Linked DNA regions of Homo sapiens. The protein of the gene in region 1 binds, or shares a complex with, the protein of each later gene. Each region holds a gene or a part of one and is shown on either strand. Other genes may lie near its edges. The genes, in order: MKS1 and TMEM67.

Region 1 (2,660 bases):
GTATCCGTACATAGGAGAGGTCCTCCAGTTCCAGAGAACCGCCAATGAAAAACCTCCTCAGCTCAGCCACCGTGCCAAGCTCCACAGGTCTCCACGTGGAGACTGTCAGGGTGTGTGAGCCTGCGCAAGGGAAGAGAAGACTGGGGCCAGGTCCAGAAAGGGCATGTGGCCCCTCACTGACTCCCCAGCAATGACACAGGCCTAGACTCAGCTAAAACACCTGGTCTGGTGATGACCTGGCCTCTGGTGCAGGTTATCATGGTTACCCATAGCACCTGTATGGAAATCAATCAGGGAGAAATTCAAATTTCCGCTCTGCCAGTTATTACCTGCATACCCAGGACAGGTTTCTTAACCTCTCTGAAGCTCATTCTCCTCATCTAGTAAAATGGAAATAATACCACCTGCACCTCACAGAGTGACTGGGAGAATTAAGTGAGAAGTATGGCACAATGCCTGGCACACAGTAAAAGACAGATGCTTTTATTCCAAACTGAATGCTGATTCATTCAATACACATATGCTATGAGCCAATTTTGCCATACAGCTTCTCACCCTGAGTCCAATCAGAGGAGCATGAAGCACATGGAGAGACTGTCAGGAAGTCAGTGCCAAGGCCACGTCATTGTCGCTAATGGAGGGGGGCAGAAAGTCCTCAGAGGAACAGGAACTCTTTCAAGCCAAACATTTCCAATTCCCAATTATCTCCACCCCTCACCAGAAGCATTCGAGTGTTAGTCTTGTTCTTAGGGCCTAGGGCATGTGGGCCACAGAAGGGCAGAGACGAGCGGTTACCTGGAGTGGCAGGCAGCACCACAGCCCCATAGCCTTCCACACGGTACCTCTGCCAGAAGTCCAGCGAGAGGACCTCACAGTAGAGCACAGGCCACTCCGGGAGTGCATCTGGGAGCAAGGAGAGAAGCGGCCAGGTCACAGGCGGCCTTCACCAAGAGACAGCACTGCTTGAGGGGAACCAAGGCCCAGGATCAACTGCTGAGCTACTCACCAGAAGATTCATCCTCATGGAGGAAGAAGGCTTCAAACGTGAATGGGTAGGAGAAGTGAGCCACCTTGTCCTATAAAAAGGAGTGTCATAGGGTGGGCAAGGCCTCCCTTGGAATCTGTTCTCCTTGTGGCCAATGACAAGGTTATCTTCACAAGGGAAAAAGAAAAATTATCACCCAGGTGGGAAATAGGAGTCTGAGATGCAAAAGGACACCCAAATACAAGCTGCTGCCATGCTCAAAAAGACAGACAGGATCTCCGGACCAGGTGGCCCTGTAGAACCCACACACAAGTCACCCAACTCTGGAATCCTCCCCAGGGCGCACAGCACTTGGCCTGATAAAACCTCAAATGCCATCCCAGGAGCAGATCTCATTCCCTTCCAGATACCCGCTCTCATTCTCCATACCATTGCCAGGGACTTGGTGGTGCAGGTCTGTGTTACTCCTGAGAGCTGCTGGAATGCTGGGCTTGACCAGTCTGAAAGCCAAAGACCAAATATAGTAAGCTCGCCTGGGAGGAAAGCAAGTCATTCAGAAAAAGACAGTTTCTTTTTTCTTTTCTTTTTTTTTTTTGTATTTATTGATCATTCTTGGGTGTTTCTCGGAGAGGGGGATGTGGCAGGGTCATAGGATAATAGTGGAGAGAAGGTCAGCAGATAAACACGTGAACAAAGGTCTCTGGTTCTCCTAGGCAGAGGTCCCTGCGGCCTTCCACAGTGTTTGTGTCCCTGGGTACTTGAGATTAGGGAGTGGTGATGACTCTTAAGGAGCATGCTGCCTTCAAGCACCTGTTTAACAAAGCACATCTTGCACCGCCCTTAATCCATTTAACCTTGAGTTGACACAGCACATGTTTCAGAGAGCACGGGGTTGGGGGTAAGGTTATAGATTAACAGCATCCCAAGGCAGAAGAATTTTTCTTAGTACAGAACAAAATGGAGTCTCCTATGTCTACTTCTTTCTACACAGACACAGTAACAATCTGATCTCTCTTTCTTTTCCCCACATTTCCCCCTTTTCTTTTTGACAAAACCGCCATCGTCATCATGGCCCATTCTCAATGGTCGCTGTCTCTTCGGAGCTGTTGGGTACACCTCCCAGATGGGGCGGCCGGGCAGAGGCGCTCCTCACTTCCCAGACGGGGCGGACAGTTTCTTTATTCATTTATTCACACAATCAATCATTCATTTACCATTTACTGAGTGCCTGCTATGTGCTAGTATATCTTAGGGGTATCTTGGTAACTAGATAGAAAAGATCCCCATCTCTCATGGAGCTGACATTCTGGGGGAAGCAGGGAGACAGACAAAAACCAAACCAACAAGAGACTATTGGGTAGTGATGAGTGCTATACTAAAAACAAAACGGGGAAGGGACTGAGTGATTGGGAGGCTCATTTAGACTGGGTGGTAAGAGAAGGCCTCTCAGAGGCGACACAGGCTGAGACCTAAACTCAGAAAGAACCAGCCATGCTAAGATATGGCAGAAAGGGTTTCAGACAAAGGAAACGGCCCTTAAAAGGCTACAAGGTGGGAATGAACCTGGCTGGGAAGAATGACTGGAAGGTTGTATGGAAGAGATAGGCAGGGGCCAGCTCATTCAGGGTATCAAGTTTACATTTTACTCTAAGTGGGAGGGGAAGCTGTTGGGGTT
Region 2 (3,656 bases), on another chromosome or scaffold:
TAGCTATTGTTCTTGTCACCTTCTTTCTGCTACAGAAAGAAGGATGTGGTCAATATTTGATGATAATCAGTAATTAGGCAGAGTTATAAAGAAGCAATGTTACTTAGAAGTAATATTACCTGTATAATTCCTTACCTGTATAATTCCAATGGCTAGCCAAAGAGCAGCAGACACTGCATATCTCAAAATGCAGCTATAAGGAGCTATGTAGCTAGGTGGGTTTCTAGAAAGACTAGAAGATGAGTCCATTAATGCTAAGTTCTTGAATCCCACAACCTGGAGTAAAAAGGAAAAGTAGTAATTTAAACGGACATGGATAAAGAAAACTACTCTAGACTGAAAACAGAAAACCTCTCCCTACTCACCTTGAAAAACTAAAATATCTAAGTTTGTATAAACAGTAGAAAATCTAGATAAAAATAATTATTATATAGTATTTTAACTACAAAGTATTTATTACACAATATTTAGTTAGCTCATTTGGCATTCTTCTCAATATGACTAAGGGCCAAATATAACCTTATTGTCATACACACTGACAAGACTAAAAATTTAATTAAAAGGATAAAACTTTCATCAGTAAACTACCAATGAGTGAAACCAACAAGTAGTATTTCATGAGTATTTGACATGTGCCAGGCACTGTACTAAACATTTTTATACTTTAAAACAGTATATTACAAAATGTCTTCTAAAGGACATAAGTTCTTGAAAAAAGAATCTATGTTTAAATACTTTTGGTCCATCCATTACACTCACCTCCATGCCTCCCACCCTTGTAGAATAAAGGCTCTGAGAAGTTTTACAGTAAAAGGTGCTACATGATTATACTGAATCCAATATTTTCCAAACTTACTTGACCATAAAACTTTTTCACATAACACCTTTTAAAGCTGAGGAAACTCTTAAACACACACACACACACACACACACACACACACACACACACACTACTTTAGTACAAAAAGAAAAGATGTGAGGTAACAGATAAACTAGCTTGATTTAGCCATTCCACAATGAATACATATATCAAAACACTGTATTGTAAACTATAAACATATGTAATTTTTATCTGTCCATTTAAGAAAAACCAAAATACCACTTCAAGTGAACTTTGGAAGTCTTGTTCATATTATTTTAAAGCCCTAGGGATACAAACATTCTTCTACTAGTTTTATAAAAGGAAAGGAAGGGAAAGGGGAAAGAGAATGGAAAGAAAGAAGAAAAAAGAGGGAAGGCAGACAGACAGACCTAAGAGTTAATGATTTATATTCAATCTTAATTAAGCAGATAATTCCTGAGAAAACCTATTCCCATATAAACTGTTTCCATGTTCAGTCTTATACTCAGTACTGAATACTTCCTTTAATAATTCCAACCAAATCCATGAAATAACTGCATATGTATCACAAACATGTTGTGTTTTGTTCAGTGTAGCCCCAGCTCTTAGCACAGAACATAGTCTACAGTAAGTGTTCAATACAAATTTGTTGAAAAATATCAAACTTATAATAGTGATTCTAATGCAGGGGAGAATATGGATCGGGGGTAGGGAGCTTTTTCAAAATATAGATACCTGGAGTTACCTCAAAGCTACTAAATCAACACATAGTCTCTAAGGGTGAGCCTGAGCATAGGTATTTTACAAAAGATCCCCAAGGGATTCTGATACAAACCAGTGGTTTTAAAGCTACTCCTTACACCTAGAGCAGTCAAACACACAGAGACAGAAAGTATTATAGAATGGTGGTTGCCTGGGGTTAGGTGTAGCAGGGAATGGGTACAGAGTTGTTTAAGGGGTATAGAGTTTCAGTTTTGCAAGATGAAGAGTTCTAAGATGAATGGTGATGATGATTTTGCGTGGCAATGTGAATGTACGTAACACTACTTTTTGTTTGTTTGTTTTTTTCTGAGATGGAGTTTTGCTCTTTCTGCCCAGGCTGGAGTTCAATGGTGCAATCTCGGCTCACTGTAACCTCCGCCTCCCGGGTTCAAGCAATTCTCCTGCCTCAGCCTCCCGAGCAGCTGGGATTATAGGCATGTGCCGCCATGCCCAGCTAATTTTGTATTTTTTGGTAGAGACGGGGTTTCTCCATGTTGGCCAGGCTGGTCTTGAACTTCCAACCTCAGGTGATCCGCCTGCCTCAGCCTCCCAAAGTGTTGGGATTACAGGCATGAGCCACTGTGCCTGGCCAACTTAACACTATTAAACTCTACACTTAAAAATGCTTAAGATGGTAAACTTAAAAAAAGAATTGTGGTAAAATACGTAACATAAAGGTACTCCTTTTTAATGGCTTCACAACAATATTTCAACCTTTAGAGAAATCTTCCACTGTCATGAAAACTTAGTTGGAATTATATTAGTTTAATATTTATAAGGTACATGTAAGTCGCATATAATCACATCAAACAGTTTATACCTCCAAAAAGAAGAGGACAGTAAGTACTTGAAAGAGTGAATTAATTTTTCTCACAGTCTGAATTTCATTCCATTCATTTGCTACAAAATATGTTCTCCATATGCTTACAGGAACAGTGGCACTTCGTACACCACCCTCACCTGGTCAGGAAAATAAAATGAGTAAAAGAGTTTTACCTCCTTTGCTCTGCAAGGGTAGCAAAAGAATTTTGGTACAAATATTTTTTATTTCAGTTACCTTCAACAGCTTTAAGAACCTTTCCTTTAGGTCGCTCCCAATCAATAAAGAATACATCTATTGTAATCTGGGATATGAGCTTATGCAAAAATTGTAGTGCCTGAGAATGACATATAATAAAACACCTGAAAAAGTACCAGCGTTAAGTCTGCTTATAAAACCAATATTGACTCTTTAAGAAACATACTGTTATCACAAGAACATATAATTTTATGAGTGAATTCACATGAAGTTATAATACCACTAAGGAATCATTAGAAGCTCATCAGATAACCTGGAATCATCAAATTCACAGAATTTTCATATACATCTTAATTTACCTTCCCTTTTTCTTTCTTTCTTTAAAATAGGAATATGAAAAGAGGAGACATTTTTCCTCCTCCTCACATAGGGACTTATATAATTGACTCTTTCCCAAAGATTCTAGAAGCACACTTTGTTTTGTAGATCAGCTGACTTCTTTATAAGTAAAGATATTTTCAACTATAGTTTGTTTTTCCTAATTAAAGTTTTCGAATGCTCTTACTGTCTTTTTTTTCTATTTCTGCTATTCAGATTTCTGATTTTTAAAGAATGTGCTGTTGAAACACATCTTTCTTATTTATACAAGCAATATGTTTAAACTGAGGCATTCTTTCTAGTTGCTGCATTATTCATCAAATAAAGGATAAAAATCTAAGTATGAGATACTTCACCTCAAGAAGCTCCCAGTCAGTGGAAAAAGCAGACACTTAACACTCACAGTAAAATAGGATAAGGACTACCAACAGGCATATAAAGAGATTCACCTACATTGATGGAGAACACTGAGTTGGGGATTGGGGGGCCATAGGAAGAAAGGAGCAAAGGAATCTGGAGACAGACAAAACAACTTTTAAGATCTCAACACTTTATCCAGAGTGGTACCTTTTACCCTTGATTAATGGAGACAAAATTCATGCCTGAAGACATTTTGTCCCATTGTGAATGTATCATCAGACTTTAAAGAAAGTTATA

Evidence for each region.
Region 2: MKS1 (region 1) and TMEM67 share a complex: the UniProt entries of both Homo sapiens proteins name them as parts of the tectonic-like complex.

What each region holds. Positions count from the first base shown.
Region 1 is NC_000017.11:58,207,099-58,209,758, forward strand, and holds part of MKS1 (tectonic-like complex member MKS1), read right to left. Parts: intron 1,486-2,660; coding exon 1,415-1,485; exon of another isoform or gene 1,410-1,414; intron 1,077-1,409; coding exon 1,007-1,076; intron 904-1,006; coding exon 796-903; intron 632-795; coding exon of another isoform or gene 606-631; exon of another isoform or gene 463-605; intron 121-462; coding exon 1-120. UniProt on the Homo sapiens protein: Component of the tectonic-like complex, a complex localized at the transition zone of primary cilia and acting as a barrier that prevents diffusion of transmembrane proteins between the cilia and plasma membranes.
Region 2 is NC_000008.11:93,796,238-93,799,893, reverse strand, and holds part of TMEM67 (meckelin isoform 1 precursor), read right to left. Parts: intron 2,761-3,656; coding exon 2,661-2,760; intron 2,564-2,660; coding exon 2,424-2,563; intron 277-2,423; coding exon 136-276; intron 1-135. UniProt on the Homo sapiens protein: Required for ciliary structure and function. Part of the tectonic-like complex which is required for tissue-specific ciliogenesis and may regulate ciliary membrane composition.